Regions from separate parts of the Homo sapiens genome. Here regions 1, 2, 3 and 5 are each linked to region 4. The links come from fine-mapping of genetic effects on gene expression. A gene starts in region 4. Each other region holds a variant in brackets. All regions are shown on one strand. Distances are from middle to middle.

Evidence for each region. PIP is the estimated chance that this variant, and not a neighbour inherited with it, causes the effect.
Region 1: its variant is fine-mapped to the expression of LIPC in thyroid (GTEx, PIP above 0.99).
Region 2: its variant is fine-mapped to the expression of LIPC in whole blood (TOPMed, PIP above 0.99).
Region 3: its variant is fine-mapped to the expression of LIPC in whole blood (TOPMed, PIP above 0.99). The same link has a PIP of 0.9 or more in blood mononuclear cells.
Region 5: its variant is fine-mapped to the expression of LIPC in nasal epithelium (TOPMed, PIP 0.91).

Annotation. Positions count from the first base shown.
Region 1 is chr15:58,377,298-58,381,417 of GRCh38, reverse strand. No RefSeq gene overlaps it. Among named protein-coding and RNA genes, the nearest start is that of LIPC, 53 kb to the left of the region's middle. The variant G/T (reference allele first, on the strand shown) is at 2,439.
Region 2 is chr15:58,397,804-58,401,923 of GRCh38, reverse strand. No RefSeq gene overlaps it. Among named protein-coding and RNA genes, the nearest start is that of LIPC, 32 kb to the left of the region's middle. The variant C/T (reference allele first, on the strand shown) is at 2,254.
Region 3 is chr15:58,408,573-58,412,692 of GRCh38, reverse strand. No RefSeq gene overlaps it. Among named protein-coding and RNA genes, the nearest start is that of LIPC, 21 kb to the left of the region's middle. RefSeq lists a silencer at 1,929-2,223. The variant G/A (reference allele first, on the strand shown) is at 2,129.
Region 4 is chr15:58,429,439-58,433,558 of GRCh38, reverse strand. It overlaps LIPC (lipase C, hepatic type), which reads right to left and starts at 1,568. Exons shown (of 9, transcript NM_000236.3): 1 at 1,439-1,568. The coding sequence starts at 1,526. RefSeq lists a silencer at 3,255-3,549 and an enhancer at 3,255-3,549.
Region 5 is chr15:58,455,764-58,459,883 of GRCh38, reverse strand. The region is part of intron 1 of LIPC (lipase C, hepatic type); the gene reads right to left. All of the region lies in intron 2 of LIPC-AS1 (LIPC antisense RNA 1), which reads left to right. Among named protein-coding and RNA genes, the nearest start is that of LIPC, 26 kb to the right of the region's middle. RefSeq lists an enhancer at 1-31 and a silencer at 1,567-1,626. The variant C/T (reference allele first, on the strand shown) is at 1,951.

The sequences.
Region 1 (4,120 bases), 52 kb after region 4:
TGTGTTACCTATGTTAAGGGAATAATTTAGTCTACAAAAACAGGTAAATAGTTTTGCTACAAGTAAAAAGCTGATGTTCCTAGAAAGTCTGGGCCAAAGATGGATCAGCCCAGAACATTTGTCTTAACAATGAAATAAGTAATCACAATCAGACACTTTTTTTTTTTCTTTTGAGACAGAGTCTCACTTTGTCACCCAGGCTGGGGTGCAGTGGCCCCATCTTGGCTCACTGCGCCCTACACTTTCCAGGTTCAAGCGATTCTCCTGCCTCTGCCTCCTGAGTAGCTGGGACTACGGGGACACACCACCGCCCCCTGCCGCCCCCCAGCTAATTTTTGTATTTTTAGTAGAGACAGAGTTTCACCATGTTAGCCAGGCTGGTCTCAAACTCCTGACCTCAAGTGATCTGCCCGCCTTGGCCTCCCAAAGTGCTGGGATTACAGGCATGAGCCACGGCACCCAGTCATCAGACACTTATTTTGTAAAGAATTATTGAATTCACCCATACATGGTCTGTGTGGATATAGTCTGGAATCCAGGTGAGAACTGATGGAGTATTTATGGAGAAATGGCTGATTATAGGACAAGGATTTCTAAATATTCTAGGGAACTGACTAATATTTCCAAAGATTTCCTATTCTCCAAGCACAGGAACCAGCTGGAGTGGAGCCAAGGCTCAGGCTTGGTCGGGGCAGAGCAACTCCTCTATTTCACTTGTTAGATGTCCTAAACCATTTTGTCCAATGTTATTGATGCAAATTGGTGGTTGTGATGGTTAATTTTATGTGTCAACCTGACGGGGCCTTGGGTGTCTAGACTTTTGGCTAAACGTTATTCTGGTGTATCTGAGAGGATGTTTTTTGATGGGACTAACATTTAAATTGATAGACAGACTGAGTAAAACAGATTGCTCTCTCTAATGGGGCTGGGCCTCATCCAATCAGTTGAAGACCTGAATAGAAAAAAAAGGCCAAGTAGGAGGAAGTTCCTTCTGCCTGACTGCTTGAGCTGGGACACTGGTCTTTTCTGCCTTTTGGCTCAGACTAAAACATTGGCTGTTTTTGGGTCTCAAGCCTGCTGGTTTTTGGACTAGAACTTTCACCATCTACTCTCTCGATTCTCAGGCCTTCAGACTCAAACTGGAACTATACTTTGACTCTCCTCAGTCTCCAGCTGCCTGACCACAGATCTCGGGACTTCTCAGCCCCCATAATCTTGTGAACCAATTCCTTATTTTATATATGTATACTGTCATGCTCTGCATAATGACATTTAGGTCAATGATAGATCACATATACAATGGTGGTCCCATAAGATTATACTACTTTAGCTTTTCTATGTTTAGATATGTTTAGATACACAAATACTTACCACTGTGTTACAACTGCTGTCAGTATTCAGTACAGTAACATGCAGTACAGGGTTTTTAGCCTAGGACCGATAGGCTCTATCATATAGCCTAGTTGTATATTTGACTGTATCGTGTAAATTTGTGTAAGTACACTTTATGTTGTTCCTGTAACTGAAATGCAGATCCAGTCATTCACTGCTTGCAGAGTCCAATTAACAAGAGTGAGGTCTGATATAAAGGAACTGCTTTATATTCTATTATAAAGACACATGCACATGTATGTTCATTGCAGCACTATTCACAATAGCAAAGACATGGAATCAGCCTAAATGCCTATCAGTGGTAGACTGAATAAAGAAATGTGGTACATATACACCATGGAATACTATATAGCCATAAAAAAGGAGTGAGGTCATGCCCTTTCCAGAGACATGGATAGAGCTAGAGGCCATTATCCTTAGCAAACTAATGCAGGAACAAAAAATCAAATACTATGTGTTCTCACTTGTAAGTGGAAGCTAAATGATGAGAACACATGGACACACAGAGGGGAACAACACACACTGGGGCTTATTGGAGAGTGGGGGTGGGAGGAGGGAGAAGATCAGAAAGAATAGCTAGTGAATGCTGGGCTTAATACTGGGGTAATAAAATAATCTGTACAACAAACTCCCATGACACAAATTTACCTGTATAACAAACCTGCGCATGTACCCCTGAAATTAAACTAAAAGTTAAAAAAAATTCTTCCAATCTATGAACATGAGATGTCTTCCCATTTATTTGTGTCTTTTAAATTTCCTCCATCGATCTTTTATAATTTTCAATGTACAAATTTTTCATCTCTTTCGCTAAGTTAATTACTAAGTGGTTTCTTTTCGTTGCTAATATAAATGAGATTGTTGTTGGTGTATAAAATCACCATTGATTTTTGCATCTTGATTTTGTATCCTGTAACGTTAATAAATTTGTTTATTAGTTCTAAAAAAAGTGATATATTATATTTCAAAGCTAGCTTAGGGGAAGAAGTACAGGCTTCTTGTCTTAAGGGTAGCAGGTGCAGAAAGTAGGAATTATTTTAAAAGGG[G/T]GCTTGGCATGAATGGCATGCAGGGGAGAAAGCAATTGGATGGAGGTCCACATAATTCGCTTCAGTGCCTTATCTACTGGGCCATTGAGCTGGCGCCTTCATGGGCAGAACTAGGTTTTAAAAGTGTCTGAAACTCTCCAGGTGGGAGAGAATTTTGTAGTGGGCATACTTAGGCTTGTAAATTGAGTGTTGCTCTCGAGGCAATCTTCAGCCGGGAGAGAGTTCCACTCTGGAGCCCCTAAGCATATAGTTAGATGAACTTGCCCTGTAGGGAATGTCTGGTGATGGGGAGGTCTAAGTAGGAAGTGAGGAACAGGGGAAAAGGAGAAAGGAGAAAAGAAAAGAAAAAAATCATTCTGTTTTTCTTAGACGAATGGGAGTACTTGGTTACATTCCTACAATGACAAAGCTGCCTTCATGACTCATTTCTCAGAAAACAGTGCTGTAGTTAAGCGATGCATGACTCTATCTGTCTATCTATCTGTCTGTCTATCTATCTATCTATCTATCTGTCTATCTATCTATCTATCTACCTATCATCTATCTATCTATCTAATCTCCTATTGGTTCTATTTCACTGGAGAGCCCTGCCTAATACAGTTGTTTTAATTATTCCTCATTTCCAATGTACTTTCCTCCTTGACTTTCATTATGGGTGGAGCAGGCTCTGTTTGATTCTAAAATTATATGAGGAAAATATAAAGAGATAACCACAAAATTGCTAATTTTTTTGGTGGAGGGAATCTGTTATGTGGATAAAGGATTAGTCTTAATACTATATTCAAGTTAAGTTATTAATTCACTGAATTTTTATGGAGCACCTACTGTGTGGTAGGACTATTCCAAAGAAGCAATGATTTCTGCCCTTGTGTATGTATGTTTTATTTTTATTTTTTAATTATTATTTTCTTTGAGATGGAGCCTTCCTCTGTCGTCCAGGCTGGGGTGCAGTGGCGCGATCTCAGCTTACTGCAAACTCTGCCTCCTGGGTTCAAGTGATTCTCCTGCCTCAGCCTCCTGAGTAGCTGGGACTACAGGCGCCCACCACCACGCCCAGCTAATTTTTGTACTTTTAATAGAGATGGGGTTTCGCCATGTTGGCCAGTCTGGTCTCAAACTCCTGACCTCAAGTGATCTGCCCTCCTTGGCCTCCCAAAGTGCTGGGATTACAGGCATTAGCCACCCTGCCAGCTGTGTGTTTATGTTTTAAACAAAGGATAGAGACAATAAGCATGATAAATAAGTCTAACTATATTGTGTGTTAGAGAAAAATAAAGCAGGAAAGGGGAGTGGGGAGGGGTTCAATTTTAAGTAGGGAAGTCCTAAAGGGCTGCATTGAGAACTGTATTAGAAAAATGACCTGTACGAAAGTGTATTAGCTTCCTATTGTTGCTGTGACAAATGACCACAAACTTAATGGCTTAAAACAACACAAATTTATTCTCTTAGAATCCTGGAAGTGAGAAGTCCCAAATTGGGCTCCTGGGACTAAAATTAAGGTGTCAGCAGGGCTGTGTTTCGTTTGGAGGCTGTAGGAGAGAATTCATTTTCATGCCTTTTCCAGTGTCTCTAGGCTACATTCCTTGGCTTGTGGCCTCTTCCTCCATATTCAAAGCCAGCATTATCAGGCCAACTCCTTCTCACACTGTCATTTTTTTAGTTCTTGTTCCTTTGCCTCCTTC
Region 2 (4,120 bases), 32 kb after region 4:
TGAAAATAATGAAGAAAAACTCAGAATAAGATGAGGTTGGGCAGGAGTCAGTGATGTCTCAGAGACGGAAGCAACTGGCTTTCCCGTGGCCAAAACCATTTCCGTTCTGAGGCCATTGGCACAGGTGGGCACATGCCCTGTTTCCCGCCTCCCCCACCCAACTCTCCACACATCCCCCATTGCCAACGCCTTGCCCTCATCCCTGCCCCCACAAAACTCAGTTGGGTTGTTCCCATGGCCACTGTGAGCAGGGCTGTCCAACGTGATCCCAGATGGCTGCCTTTATGACGGCTCTATGCCGCCTCATTCCCCATGTTGTGTACTATGATGTCCACCACATGTTAAATTAACAGTGTCTGCTGTGCGAGGGTAATGGATTGGGCAGTTCTTCTCTTTCTGAGCAGTTACTCAGGCTTGCCATCTGGCAAATCTAGTAGCCAGGTGGTAACCCTAAATAACCTCACTTTGATGGGGTGGGGGTAGAGGGGACCCCAGTTGGTTCTGTTCTTGCCATCTGCGGCCTCCTTCTCTTGGAGGGAGATGTCCAGAGCATCTGAGCCATGCGATTTCTTCATCAAGCAGCTATTTGCCATGAGAAACACTGCCACTTCAGGTATTCAGAATTCTGCTCTCCAGCAACTCCACCAATTTAGAATAGACTCAGGAACCGGAAGACAAACCCAAAAAGGCTGTGTGCAGCTGAGACCGGAGGGAAGCTCATGTACCAAAGCTCACATGCCTTCCTCTTGGGAAAGTTACTTGAGCTTCGACTTGGAAGATACTTACTCTTACTTTACATTCAGTGATAATCATAGAGGTCCTCTAATTTCTAAGGATTCAGTATCTTGGAAGCCACAGATTAGAAGAGAGGAGAGAGCATGTAACAGCAGACGCTTTGACAGATAATGTGGACTGCCTGAAGATGCTGAAACTAAGCAGATGTAAGATCCAAGAGCTAAGAGCACAGCAAACTGGGGTCATTGAGTGAGAGGCAAAGTGCGCTATAGCCCTTCAGTATTACCTGAGGACACCACGGTACAATAATGAAGTCTGGAGTTACAAACCTGTGACACCAGCACTGTTCATTATGATCAGTACAGACCATTTCAGGGGCAGGGACTCTGTTAAACATTACAGAGATGTCCTCTCCAAATGGTTAAAATAGAAAGACACACAGGAATGAAACGGTTCTTTGAGAAAAATCATATAACCAGGAGTAGAGTGAATTAAAATATTACATAAGATTTTTGCAAAGACTTTTTTCATTATCATAAAATAAGGTAGGTTTATTGAAGAATATTTAGAAAATGTAAGCCAAAAGAAGAAAATAAAACATGGCTATAACCCTTACTTCCAAAATATAACAAGTGTTAGCATCTTATTGGCTCTCCTGTTCTCTCTTTGTATGTATTTGTATATTTATACCATTTATCAATCTGTCGTCTGCCTGCATACCCATCTATAACTAGTTGTAAGAAATATGTAAGAAGTAACTTGAGTTTACCCCCACTTAATACACAGACAAGAAACTTTTCATGTTAATAAGTAAACCACCTCAGCATCATTTTAGAGGTTACGTTGTTCGTATTTCATAATATGGATAGTCTTCCAAGGGGCTGTGGTAATTGATTATTTATAAAAGTGTATATTGCACAGAAATATTTGGAAAATAAATCTGTGATCATTATGAGCCAATAGGGCATGATGACTTCTATCCTAATCACCACTAGACAATTTCACTGCTGTGGTAGTAGTACTGAAAGCTGCAAAGCTGGGCCTTTTTGCCGTTGTGAGCCATACTGGTTGTTTGCTTCTTGTTCATGAAGGAGTCTAGAATGTGCCACCCCAAAATATGCCACTTTGGCGTAAAGATTATTTTGAGCAATTGTGAATCAACAGATAAAGGAAAACTTCTCTACTTTCTTGTTATCTGCCTAAAAGCAGAGCATAAATTTCCTCCCCTCTTCTGTACCACGATAACGTGTGCAACCCTTATCATTGGAATTGAAGAGCTGGCACCAGGATGAGTCTGCATAAACAGACCTTATTAAAATAACCCTGATCTTTCATCAGTTTCCCCCATATATTTCCTCATCACTTTCCCACAATTTGTTACTCCTATTTCCCAAACTTTATCAGCCCTCTTTTCTTTGTCTAGTCACTTCTCCACAATTTATCAACTTTTGTTAGAATCATATATAAGACCCTGGGCCTGACTGATTCTTTGGGTTTCTCACTTCTTTTCTGTGAAGC[C/T]CCCATGCATGTAGAATGAAAAAATACTAACACAATTTGTATGCCTTTTCTCCTGTCAATCTGTGTTTTGTCAATTTAATTCACAGTGGATCTCTCCACTCTCCCCTCCGCTTCTGGACTTTAAACAGGATTAAAATTATACTGCATTAAATGCCAGCTGTTTGCTCCTCACAGTGCAGAGCAGTACTTTTTAATTCTTTTTTTGAGACAGAGTCTCACACTGTCATCCGGGCTAGAGTGCAGTGGTGCAATCTTGGCTCACTGCAACCTCCACCTTCTGGGTTCAAGTGATTCTCCTGCCTCAGCCTCCCAAGTAGCTGGGATTACAGGCACCTGCCACCACACCCGGCTAATTTTTTGTATTTTTAGTAGAGATGAGGTTTCACTATGTTGGCCAGGCTGGTCTCAAACTCCTGACCTTGTGATCTGCCCACCTCGGCCTCCCAAAGTGCTGGGATTACAGGCGTGAGCCACCGTGCCCGGCCTAATTCTTAAACTTTAATGTGCATACAAATCACCTGGAGATGGTAGAATGCAAATTCCAGTTCGTGAGGTCTGGGGTGGAGCCTGAGAGTCTGCATTTCTAATAAGCTCCCTGGCAATGCCGATGCCACCGGACGGAGTCCCGCATTGAGTAATGAGGGGGCAGAGTGTGCCTCAGGGTCCCCCAGAGGGCCTGTTAAAACCCAGACTGCTGGGCTCTGAGAACAGAGTGTCTGATTCAGTTAGGTCTAGGTTGCGGCCCAAGAATTTGCATTTAACAAGTGCCTTCTCAGTAACGCTGATGCTGCTGGTCTAGGGAGCACACATGGAGAACCACTGGCTTAGAGGCAGTCACTGGAGCCAGGCCGACTAGCTTTGCAGCTAGAGTCCCGCTTTGTCCCTCTGTAGCCTCAGCGAGTTGCTTAACCTCTGTGCCTCACTTTCTTTAAGTCAGGGATAATAATACCACCGATGTTAGAGGGCTTTTGTGAAGCACTGTGTATGCTCTATATGTAGGCACTGTGTAATGTTATTATTTGCCATTCCTTTCAACTCAGGGATTAAAATGTGCACATTTTCTGCTCTTCAGACAATCTTTTGGGGGTGAGGTCTTCCTCTTACCCAGGCATATCCGGAGAACCTCTCTCCGTTCACTTGTGCCCTAGAAGGTAAAAAGTCCCCACATCTACTTTTGCACTATGGTGTTGATTCCTCAGTAAGCACATGGCTGCTGAGCACTGCCTGCCTTTAACCTGGGTGCACAAGAAATCCTTATAAACAAAGAACGCAGCCAAACCTAATGAGTACAACATCATCTCAGGCTGCAGCAAGGAGGTTTGTCTCCCTCAGCTTCCCTGGGAGGACCTGCTCTCTGTAAGCTCAAAGCCTGTTCTGGCTAGCATGGATTAGAAAGAGTGGTTCCCAGCATCCCAGGCAGCTCTCTGTCTAGAGTGTTTTAATCACATGCAAGGCTGAAAGTCAAGGGAGGTAAGCAGCCCCTGCAGCCAGGAATTTTTTACCTGCCTGGGGAGGCTGGAGAGGGAGATTAGTGGGCTGCTGAACATTTCAGGCAAAGCAGCTAGCAGAGCCCAGAGACACAAGGTAAGGAGGCCTGTGGCACAGCCACATGGGGTCCAGCGTGGCTGAAATGTGGAGTGGGAGGCCAGGAAGGGCATTAGGGTCACACAGGGCCTCCAGTGGCATGTGGGACGGAGGGTCCCTCAGTTAACTGAGGGAGGGAGGGAAGCTATATCAGAACGCTTTTGATGGCAAGTAACATAAACCAACTTGCCTTAGCTTAAGCTCAAAAAAATACTTCATTATAGGGATTCAGTCTGTTTCACAGAACCCAAGGACAGGCTGCCGCAGTCCCGCAGGAAGAGGC
Region 3 (4,120 bases), 21 kb after region 4:
TCTGTTTTTCAGAAGTTCATGTTTATTTTCAAATTTACTATTTTTTATTATTCACATACTATATATTCATAGTAGAAAAGATAAAGCAATATAACAAAAATTGGCAGAAATATCAGTGCACAGAGATAACCACTGTTAGTATTTAGATGAATATTTTATAGACTTTTGCTTTCAATCGACAAAAACTCTAGATACTTTTTCTAGTTAAATATGAGTACATTAAAAATGGAGTTATATTGTACGGCTTACGGTTTTAACTCTCTTTTAAGTCTTAGTTTATTTGACATACTTATAGGTAATCTTCATAACAACTTTGCAAGGTAGAGCCTCATTTTTAGATGAGGAATCCAAGGTTCAGAGAGGTTCAGTAAACTGCCCAGGTCACACTGCAGTAAGGAATGTAGTTTATAATCTAAACCCCGAACTGTTTGCTGCAAAGGCTCTTGGTTAGATTATTCTTTTGCCCAAGGCTCCTTTCATTGCTTTTACTTATTCACATTTAGCTTTATTGCATGTGGTGAGAAAATATGTATATTTTTTCCTCTTGATTCAATTTTTAGGGCCTTATTTGAGAGTTAGTATATATGTACCAATGCCCCCATATGGAAAAAAATGTGTAATCTATGTTGGTATTGAGTTCAGTGTATGTCTATTGGTTCTAACTTATCAATTGTATAACATAACCTCTATTGTCTATTTTTGTCACGTCTTCAATGTCTTCTAAATTTTTGTCTATTTAAATTTGTCTTTATTTTTTACTCTTGTCTATTTTTTTCTTAGCCTTGAAATGAATTAAACTCTCCCTTTACAATTGCTTGTTTTTTATTCTATTTCTCTTTGCATTTCTGACTTTAGTAACCTCTGTCTTCACAGTTGATTTTCTATTTTTTATCATAATCAGGAGCTTCTTTGTATCCTCTCCCTGTGTTTTTGGCTTCAAAATCTCTTTTATATGCTATCAACTTTACCAACTATTTTCTTTTTGTCGTATGAGTTTCCTCATTAAACCTTTTTATTTTAGCATTTCTGCATTTTTTGGGTAACAGATTCCTATTTTTAAGCAACATACGTATTGTTGGGTCTTATGTTTTAATCCAATATGAGAATTTGTCTTTTTAGAAATCAATGGCCTAAGGCCGGGCGCGGTGGCTCACGCCTGTAATCCCAGCACTTTGGGAGGCCGAGGTGGGCGGATCACAATGTCAGGAGATCAAGACCATCCTGGCTAACACGATAAAACCCCGTCTCTACTAAAAATACAAAAAATTAGCCGGGCCTGGTGGCGGGTGCCTGTAGTCCCAGCTACTCGGGAGGCTGAGGCAGGAGAATGGCGTGAACCCGGGAGGTGGAGCTGTGGCAGTGAGCCGAGATGTTGCCACTGCACTCCAGCCTGGGTGACAGAGTGAGACTCCGTCTCAAAAAAAAAAAAAAAGAAATCAATGGCCTAAATATATAAAGTTCTTTGGGGAGAAGCTAGTGTATTGATATGAGATGGGCTCCCAGCTACTAGCTGTGGACTTTCTACAAGTTCCTTAAATACCCTGTGAGGAAGCTACTTACAGGCGTCTTTATCTGTAAAATAATGTTAATAAGCACACCAACGTGATAGAGTTGCTTCGAAGATTAAATGAGATCAAGAGCAATCAGAAATAGAAGCATATTAAAGCATATTAAACTGATTATTTGTAAAATGCAATTGTCAATATTTGCTATGATAGACATTATGTCTGGAAATACCATCCAAAGCAAGTTTCTTGGCAGTTAGAAAGCAAGTTGGTTAAACGATGATCTATGCTCAAAATGGGGATAATCAGTTCTATACTTTTCTCCAACCATATTTTAAATTTTTCTTTGAGATAATGGGAATAACTTACAAGAAAAACTGCTGAGAAGCAGTGGTCCAAAGCCTTTTTAGAAGCTCTCAGGGTTCAGTTCAAGTTGTCCATCTCCATTTCTGGCTGCACCTGGAGCTTCACAGCTTGACTTAAATTCGGCCATGTCAGGAATCACTCACTGCCTTGCTTTCCATTTAGTTAATTAAGTGCTTAGGTTTACAAATAAGTTATTTGCTCTCATGACGGGTATGGAAGCTGCAGGCTTTGCTGTGCCTTGGCAATTCTCATCAGGC[G/A]TGGAAAAACTGAAACTAAGAAAAACCAACCAAGCGATGATAGATTTTCCACTTCCTGGATTGTGTGACTTGCTCATCCAATGAAAGGCAATGAGGGTGGGGTGGGGGGCAACCAGAGATGAGGACTGATTCTCAGCTTGTTGTTCTCCTCAGCAGTCCTCCAGCCCCTGTACAGCTGGAACCTCTGCATCAGTGAAAGCTGCTAGGAATTCAAAGTGCGTTCACATTCACTTCTGCTCCTCAGGATCAGAGGCAGTGAGGAAAGCTAAAAAAAAGTCTGAGGTTTAAATTGGAACCCATTTTTAACTTTTCAAATGTTCTTGGTATTTTAAGATCCAGAAAACCTTAAATCAGACAATTCTATATTACCAAACTGAAGAATAGTCTATAATATCATAATCTGATATGCTCCAGACTGACCTGATTTATTTTTACTTGTATGAACTTCAAATCTGATGGCTTTTATTTGATCCCTCAGAGGATGCTGTAGGTCCATTTCCCATCTGATGCAATAGAGGTGTCTTTTTTTTTTTTTTTTTTTTAAACTTCTCTGATAATAATCATCATCTGGTGTCTTGTTACACAAATGTTTCTAAGTTCCTCCCTAGAGATTCTGCTTCAGTGGGTCTGGGATGGGGCCTCAGATTTGTGGTCTCTTTTTCTGTTTGTTTGTTTGTTTTTTTGAGACAGAGTCTCACTCTGTCATCCAGGCTGGAGTGCAGTGGCGCGATCTTGGCTTACTGCAACCTCCACCTCCTAGGTTCAAGTGATTTTCCTGCCTCAGCCTCCTGCTTAGCTGGGACTACAGACACACACCACCACACCCGGCTAATTTTTGTATTTTTAGTAGAGACGGTGTTCTACCATGTTGGCCAGGCTGGCCTCAAACTCCTCATCTCAAGTGATCCACCCACCTCGGCCTCCCAAAGTGCTGAGATTACAGGCATGAGCCATCGTGCCCAGCCGGATTTGTGTTCTTAACATTAGCTTGGGCAACAGTGGAGTAGACTGAGGGGATAGATTCTACTTTTACAATTAGAAAGCCTTGGGCTCAAGTCCTGGGTCTTTCACTTGCTCGTTATGTGGTCTTGCACAAATTACTTAATCTTCCTCAATCTCATCTGAAAAACAACTGGAGATAAAAATATCTAAAAGTGTTGTCAAGAGGATTAAAATAACTAACACCCTTGATAGCATCCACTTTTCTCAGTATTGCTAAATCATTTCTACCCAGGTTAATTTGAAGATTATCTGTGAATTTATTTAGCATGCAGGCATAATGTTTTTTACTTATTTTCCTTGTTTATTTGGTGTATATTTGTGAAGCTTTTGCTGTGTGCCAGACACTGCGATTTTTAGAACACACTGAGCACTCCCTGATGGTATCACCTGCTCACATGGTCCATCTCAGGTTGTGTTTTCGTTTTTGTTTTTTGAGACAGAGTCTTGCTCTGTCTCCCAGGCTAGTGTGCAGTGGTGCGATCTTGGCTCACTGCAACCTCCACCTCCCAGGTTCAAGCAGTTCTCCTGCCTCAGGCTCCCAGGTAGCTGGGACTACAGGCATGCACCATGATGCCTGGCTAATTTCTGTATTTTTGGTAGAGATGGGGTTTCACCATGTTTGCCAGGCTGGTCTCGAACTCCTGATCTCAAGTGATATGCCCGCCTCAGCCTCCCAAAGTACTGAGATTACAGGCATGAGCCACTGTGCCCCATCCATCTCAGGTTTTTGAAAGTACTACCCAGCTTTCTTGTGTGAAAGAAAGCAGGCCCCTAGTTATTCATGGAGCTTCTTGGATTAGGAAGGCCATGTCCTTATTCCTCCTTTGTACCAGAAATTCAATTTTTCTTGAATCTAATCGTGTATTTTTTTCAAAAGAAAATATATATAAAATTATTCGATTTGATTTTACACAGAATATGTTCCAGGTACTTTGCATTAAGTGAATTGTCTCTTTTTGGACAGAAAAACCTTTGTACTTTTCCCCCTCC
Region 4 (4,120 bases):
ACAGCAGTGAGAATGAATGAGCCTCAACTCCACGAAACTGCATGGTTGACTTTCACAAACATAATGTCGAACGAAAGAAGCCAGACGCAAAAGAGCAACTGATGTGTTTCTATTAATGAAAAATCTCCCCAAAGGAAAAAATCATATATGTTAAGGCTCAAGGGGCACACAAGGAAGGCTTTGGGGTACTGGTTCAGTTTGTGAGAACTCATTGAGGATTTATGATAGAGGCCCTTTTCTAGAAGTGTGTTATAAACTTCATTAAAAAGTAAACAAACAAATACAACATTCCGGGGCAAAGGGCAGGAAAGGCCCTTTAGCAAAATCACTATGAACCAAGGGAATAAAGATTACCAGCAATTTTACCTGTATGGCTCTAAATTATTATGTAAGGGTCATTTTTGGATGTGGCTTTATAAATGAGATGATGTGTCAAAAATAATTAGTATAGTGCTTGGCACAGAAAATACTTAGTGAATGGCAATAATTAATACTGCTACTCAGTTATTAACTGGCCTATGAAGTAAAATAGTCAAATACAAAGGAACAGCCTTTTTCTTAAAGGGGAAAAAAGCTTCTGAAATTTTTAGGTACATCCCGTTAGGGAATTTCTAATTCTCAAAGTTGTCGGAGCTCTCTCCAAGGCTAGTCTTAGAGAAAAGAAAAATCTCAGACTCTACCTTAGCGTTACTAGCTCCTGACCAGTAACCAGTACCAAAACAAATTCCCAAACACCTGTCTAGTCTGGCCAAATTGTTCAATTAACTGATCCGTCATTTATTGGTCCACTGCTTAGCCTGGAAGCTGGGCTCCACTCTACTACCTTCCTGATAAGGCATTTGATCTGTCTTTCGCCATCAATCTAGTTTGTGAATTTACAAACAAAACAGGCAGGACGGCTGTTGGATTCTTCAGCCTCAGACTAAAATTTTGGCAGCAAAACAAAGTCTAGAAATTGTGCAATGATATCTCTACTTTAGACCTGACTGGAAATAGAACTCTCATAAATTCCCCTCTCTTCTGAGAGAGGCAGGCAATTAGACAACCCCAACCCGACAGAGCATTTCATTGCAAGCCTGGCTCCCCGGTTGCAAATTAGATGCCACATTAACTCTCAGGAAGATCTGAATCGCTTTCATATCATTTGCCGCTGAATAACTTTTAGCATGACTGTTTCCATATCAGATACGCAAGAGACTTCACTGCTAGCTGCAGGCACTCTTAGAAGACTTTTAATCCGAGGATGATTTTCTAAAATTTCATTTCTGTTTACAAACGGCTACGTGTCCCTGTGAACCTGTGAGGTCGTGTATAGAACCACCTGGCACGCTCTGAAGCAAGCTCTGTCCCATACAGTCAGAAACCCCTGGATTCTTTGTGACACACGTTTTAAAAAGAAAAGTTCATGCCCATCTCTGGAGAAAAGTCAGGCTCTTACCTGGTTTCAGGCTTTGTCCAAGGGCACTTGATTGGATAAAGATGCATAAAACCAACAGAATGGAGAAACACAGGGGACTTGTGTCCATTTCTCCGTTTCACCCGGGGTCCAGGCTTTCTTGGTAATTTCTGAAGCCAAAGAGACCACAATGCCTATTAGATACTTTGTTAGGGAAGACTGCCCATTAATAATTAACCTCTCAACATGTTATCCACTGTTCAGACCCTTTCTTTACTGCCCCCAACTGCAAATCTAATTATATCTATTTTAAAAAGGTCGATTTACAGAAGTGCTTCTTATCCTGACACATTTTGAGAATAAAATACCTTGTTATGTATTCTTACCTTTTGGGGCCAAGGTCAGAGTTCCAAATTAATCAACTTAAAGCTACTGTGTTGTGTTTGGAAATTCTGCCAAAGGTCGGGGTAGGTGGCTTCCACGTGGCTGCCTAAGCCTCCCTGTGACAGCGCTGCAAGGGGGATGCTGGCTCAGGAAAGTGGTGTTTCAAATTGCAGCCTAAGCCCAAAGAAAAAGAAAAGGGCCCTGCCACGCAGAGAGCCCCCAGAGGGTCCAAATTTCTGTTGGGTTCAGTGAAATTGGTGATGCTTGTGGTCAAAGTGTGGTGCAGAAAACCCTTCACCCCCGTGTCAAAAGGAGCTGACGAAGAAGCAAAGATGCCCTTGCCAAGTGACCCATTGAGAGGTGATCCTAGAGTAAACACACTTCTTCCCCCTCTGTGTTCATTAATGTTCCAGCTGTGTAGAGGACTGAAAAGTAAGGCCACTCAGCAAAATCAGGTAGGGAAAAGGCGACCATAGATGGCTTTTGTGATATTTTTGGACCTCTAGTTTTACTTTAACTTTCTTCATTTGTTCAACATTTATATATTTTGGTATGCCTACTAGGTGCCAAGCACTGTTGCAGGCACGTGGGGTATACAAGTCCTTATGTATCAGTGGAGGTTCTTACCTTCTGGAGTTGGATAACGGACAGTAGACATAATAAAGAAGAGATTTCTGGCCAGGAGCGGTGGCTCACTCCTGTAATCACAGCACTTTGGGAGGCGAGGAGGGCGGATCACGAGGTCAGGAGTTCGAGACCAGCCTGACCAACATGGTGAAACCCCATCTGTACTAAAAATACAAAAGTTAGCTGGGCGTGGAGGTGAGTGCCTGTAATCCCAGCTACTCAGGAAGCTGAGGCAGGAGAATCGCTTGAACCTGGGAGGCGGAGGTTGCAGTGAACTGAGATCGCGCCATTGTACTCCAGCCTGGGCGACACAGAGAGACTCCGTCTCAAAAAAAAAAAAAAAAAAATTAGGTAGACTGGTAGAATGTAATGGGAACCACTACAAGAAAAGCAGGGGGTTGGGGAGAAGGTAGGGATTTTAAGCAGAGTGGTTAGAGTGAATTGCATTGGGAAGTTAAACTTTCAGCAAAGGTTTGAAGGAAGTGAAGGAGTTGCCCCTGTGGACGTCTTGGGGAGGAGAGCTTCGGGCAGTCTGTGCAAAGGCCCTGAGGTAGGAGTATGCCTGGTGTGCTCCAGGAATAGCAAGGAGGCCAATGAATGGGGAGACATTGTAAGGACTTTGACTTTTATGCATTGACACATGGGGGGCGACTCTGAGCAGAAGGGTGATATGATTTGTATTATAGTTTTAAAATATCACTCTGGTTTGCAAGTGAGCCAGGGTGCAGTGGGGAGATCTGTTAGAAGGCTATTACAGTGGCCCAGTGAGAGGTGATGGTGGCGTGGCCCAGCATGGTAAAGGGCAACTGCGGAGTGGTGGATGGGTGGTGGATATATTTTGAAGGTAGAGCCCACAGGATTTTCTGACTGCTGAGTTGTGAGATGTGGGAGAAAGAGAGGAGTTAAGGATGACTTCCAGGTTTTTTGGCTTGAACAAGCAGATTAATGGGGTTGCTGTCAGCTGAGAAGGGGAAGCTGTGAGTGAAGCAGGTCTGTTGGGGGAAGATTAGAGATTCAGCCTTGGCCACGTGGGGCTTTGAGATGGCTCTTAGACATCCAAGTGGAAACGTTAAGCGGGCAAAATTAGATAACATGGTAATTATTGCCTGGACGAGCCTCATTCAAAGGGCCTTCTGAAGCCACCACCAGACTTGGACGATCTTGACCCAGTCTAAAGCTGTGTTCTGTCCTATGACTGTACCTTCCTCCCAAGCCCCGAAGCTTGCGGACCATCCCGTCAGATATACAATTTCTTTTTCTTTTTCTTTTTTTTTTTTGAGATGGAATCTTGCTCTGTCGCCCAGGCTGGAGTGCAGTGGCGCGATCTCGGTTCACTGCAACTTCCACCTCCCAGGTTCAAGCGATTCTAGTGCTTCAGCCTTCAGAGTAGGTGGGACTACAGGTGCCCACCACCATGCCTGGCTAATTTTTGTATTTTTAGTAGAGACGGGGTTTTACCATGTTGGTCAGGCTGGTCTCTAACTCCTGACCTTGTGATCCACCCACCTCGGCCTCCCAAAGTGCTGGGATTACAGGCGTGAGTCACCGTGCCCATCAGATATACAATTTCTGAGCAAGGACTTCTGCCTTGGATACTTGGCTGGCTCCTGCACAGTTAAGCAGAATCTGAAAGTTCCACTTTTTTTCCTATAAAGCTGGCACGTAAGACCAGCTGGCTACCCATCTCGGGCTCCTCTCCCCTGTGCCCACCCT
Region 5 (4,120 bases), 26 kb before region 4:
GGGCCTCCCAGGGCCCCGCCTGTGAAGGAGGAAGCTGAGAGGAGTGCCCAGGGCTGAATCCCTCAGATACCTCTGTCCTTCCCCCAAGGGGTAAGGGAGCGGGCATCTGTTCCCGTGCAGGCGTCCTTGGGGACGGGTGTGGATTCCTTCCTGTGACAGCTGCAGAAGCCACCAGAACACGGTGCAGAGCACGAGGCTGATTTTCAATCCCAGTGTGGGCCACACCCTATGTGGGGGGAGTGTTTGCTTTTCCATAAATGTAAAAATTGCTTAATATGACTCCAGAGAAGACTAAACACCTGTTTGCTGGTGGACTCTCTCTCGTTTATTTTTTCTGTTTTCAGGAGCGGGTGGGACTTCCTCCAGAAACTGCTGGTTTCCTGAAAATCTGGACCATGCCTGAGACTTTTTTATGAACTTTTAGCTTTGTTTTGATTTATTTATTTATTGTGAGCTCTCTAAGGGACATCAAAAAAAAAAAAGAAAGAAAAAAGTCGATTCTCCAAAAGATTTTCACTCAAGCTTAGCAAAGGACAGAACTACAATGTCACCAGCAAATGTTTGCCCCTCACTGAGCATTCTCCAAAGTGAGGTCTCTAAAAAGACACTGTCTATGTCACTTCCTGCTTGCTGGGAAAAGCCAAAGTTTCACTAGGCTTTGACCCAGAGGTCGTCTTGCAGTGAGGGAGGCCATCTCCTCCTGATGTCCACTGGGCCTTTGGTTTTCAATGACTGAAAGCTGTTTTTGTCCCAGCAGAACTACAAAATACATACCTCACCTAAAAAAATAGGAGGCATGACTACCATCTCTCCCTCTTGGAATGTATTGCACCTATAGCCAAGGGGAGATGTATAGCCTTCTCAATGTTCTATGACCTAGCACCTTTTTCTCTTAAATATTCACTAGAAAACTAATAAAGCCATGGACATACTCTGATGTTATCGATGGCAGATTTTGGGGTTGACCTAATGTACTTTTTCCCCACTTAACGCACAACTTAATCATCTCCTGAGGAACAAAGAGATGGTGGCAAAAAACCCTCTGTAAAACCTTTTTCCTGTTCCACTGGGAAACCAGGATCAAGGACAAGGGACAGGAATGGTGCAGGGACAGGAGCTAGTTGTATAAGATGTGTAATTTTGAGGGGCAGAGGGGTGACCAGATTCTGCTGGCAAGGGCTGAGAAACAGGGAGTTCTTTGGTTTCTGATGGGGAAAGAAACCATAGAGTGTTATTTAGCCCTGTTGGAAAGCTGGTCTCTGAAAACTGAAAGCACCCAAGATAACGGGGATAAAGATGGGAAAAGGTTAGAGGTGGGAAGGGTTAGAGGTTGCAAAGCCTCAAGTAAGACTTATTCTTTGGGTGGTGTCATTCTAAATGTTTTGACTTGGAGGAAAGAGCTGGGAATGAGGACAATGTCCCTGCTATTATAACAGCAGCATATGCACCAACATAAAGAAAAATCCTGTTTAAGAAAAACCTGCCTGGGCTGTGCTTTAATTGCAAGAGGTAGAAGGACGTGGTGGGGGAGGCTCAGCTGCTGGTCTAACAATAGCATAAGCCGACCTTGCTCAGGGGAAGTCCATTGCTAAACTTCAAAGTTCAGTCTGTGAACTTCACATTTAGGAAGCACTTCCTGATGACCTCATTTAAAATTTTATTCTTCCAAGGGACACAGTACAGAATATATGGACTTACATTTTTTTTTTTTCTCCAGCAATTTCCCTGCTTCTGTAGGAGTAAAAAAACGGAAACAGGTGCTTATGTATTTATTTTTAAAGCTCCCTAGCTACTAAGGACAGCAAGGACTTTTGCCATTTAATTTTTGTTATTGTCTAGCTCATGAAAATGTATTTCTTAATCCTCCAGCTACACATATTCCTGATGAGAAAAAGTATAAACTGGTATGTCCTATGCACTCTAGGAGCCCTTGATTTAAGACTAACCACA[C/T]GGCATGTACACAGACAGCCATGTAGAAAATGCCTGCAGAGCCAGCATCAGGGGCAGGATGGAGACATGGGCCCGGGATAGAGTGGAAAAGGAATTGTGTGAATCACGGAGGTGGACAAGTGTTTATGTACAAGATGGAAATCCTTACCATATATCCAGTTCAGTCAGGTTTATGTGAAGGAAATGACCAAGCCAGTGCTACTTGCTCTTTCGATTACCAAATGGGATTGCTTGGCTGGTTTAGGGAGAATAAACACAATAATAGTGAAAGTAGTTGACCACAAAATGATGCGGCCTGAGTCATAGAAAGCTTTATGGAGAAGATAGCATCTGAAGGTCCCATTCAGCAATGGGTGGGGCAGAAGTGGTCTTACATGCTGAGGGGATGTGGGGCACAGAGAAACAAGGACTGCTGCTGCAGCTCTGCCCTGAAGGAGCCAAGTGGCATATCGTAAACGGGGTGCCTTGTAGGCCTTCTTGCTGTCCACAGGTAAATTTGAGGAGTGCTTAGAATACGTCATGTCTGCCGGGCGCGGTGGCTCACGCCTGTAATCCCAGCACTTTGGGAGGCTGAAGCGGGCAGATCACCTGAGGTCGGGAGTTTGAGACCAGCATGACCAAAGTGGAGAAACCCTGTCTCTGCTAAAAATACAAAAATTAGCCAGGCGTGGTGGTGCCTGCCTGTAATCCCAGCTACTCAGGAGGCTGAGACAGGAGAAATGCTTGAACCCGGGAGGTGGAGGTTGTGGTGAGCCAAGATCGCACCTTTGCACTCCATTCTGGGCAACAAGAGTGAAACTCCGTCTCAAAAAATAATAAAAAAATCATGTTTTCGAAGCCAAGGGCTGCTCAGCCCACATCGCCCAGTGCTGTTTTGGCCTTGTCTGATGATACCTGCATGCTGACAAAGGAGGTGCCCGGCCCTGGGCATCATCTCTGCTGGAGCCTAGTTCTCACTTAGCTCTGTTTCCCTGGGTATGCCACTTGACCTCCATAGTTTCTATTTTCTTATTAGTAAAATAAACGAGTTGAGCGAGATGTTCTCTAGAATAACTTCTGTTTTTCCCATTCTACGCATGGTAAAGTATACTTAAACATATGTACATATTTCTTTAGTTGGGAAAACAGCAGTGGTGAAGCCCTAAAAAGACAGAGGACCTCTCGTTTTCCCCAATTTGTTGCCTTTATGAATGTGATGGGTTGCGGGGGACATTTGCAAAGAGAGACCAGACATCTACCTGAGGCTATGAGGTAGCGGGCAGATCCCCAGTGTGGACAGGGCTACTTAGGCCCATGGGGGCAGGAGGCCTTAGCATTGGCTACCCATGTGCTCCTGCAGTCCTCCTAGGAGGGAGTGACACCCCTAGTCTCTATTCACCCCCCAGCACCTCCCTCCAGGGGCCTCTGGGCTGCATCAGGGGAGATGTGCCCTGTCCTTAGCTATGGCTTCAGGTTTGGCTCAGTGCTTTTTGCCCTTCATACTGGAAAAGCTTATTTTTCCCCATGAATATCAAAGTAATACAACTTCAGAACAACAGGAAGGTACAGAAAGCATTGAGGATAAATACATAATCAGCTATCATACTATCACACAGAGCAATTTATTTAAGTGCATTTTCTTCTAACGTGTTTTTTCCTTAATGCAAATGTAAAATTTTGCATTCTACTTTTTCTTTTCTTTTGGCTTGATCTCATAGCATGTTTCCATGCCATTACATATATTTGACCCCACTTCATTCCCTTCTGCTTCCCTATGCTCACCCTCTTGTCTCGGTGTCCCTGACTTCAGCCTCGCCTCCTGCGCTCATGCTGTGTGCCTGTCTGAAGTACAGCCATTCTTCATTTGTCATTGAGTCCTACCATGCTTTACGGCTCTCTGTCCCCCATGAAGCCTTCTCAGACCACCTTGGAGAACTTTCCAGATTGTCTATCCATCCCTGACCCCCTTCCCTTCCTTGGGGTCTGGACCATGCCTTGGGTCCTTAACAAGTGCTGCTCTGGGCTGTTAGGTCTCTTTTTATGTAGACACCCCTCAGGCAGTGGTGCATTGGTGGATACTCAGCAACTGGCTCTCTGGAAGAAAATATATTCATATATATATACACGCATACATGCATATATTGTGCATTTCATTGCTATCAAGGTATTATACAATTTATAAATAATAATG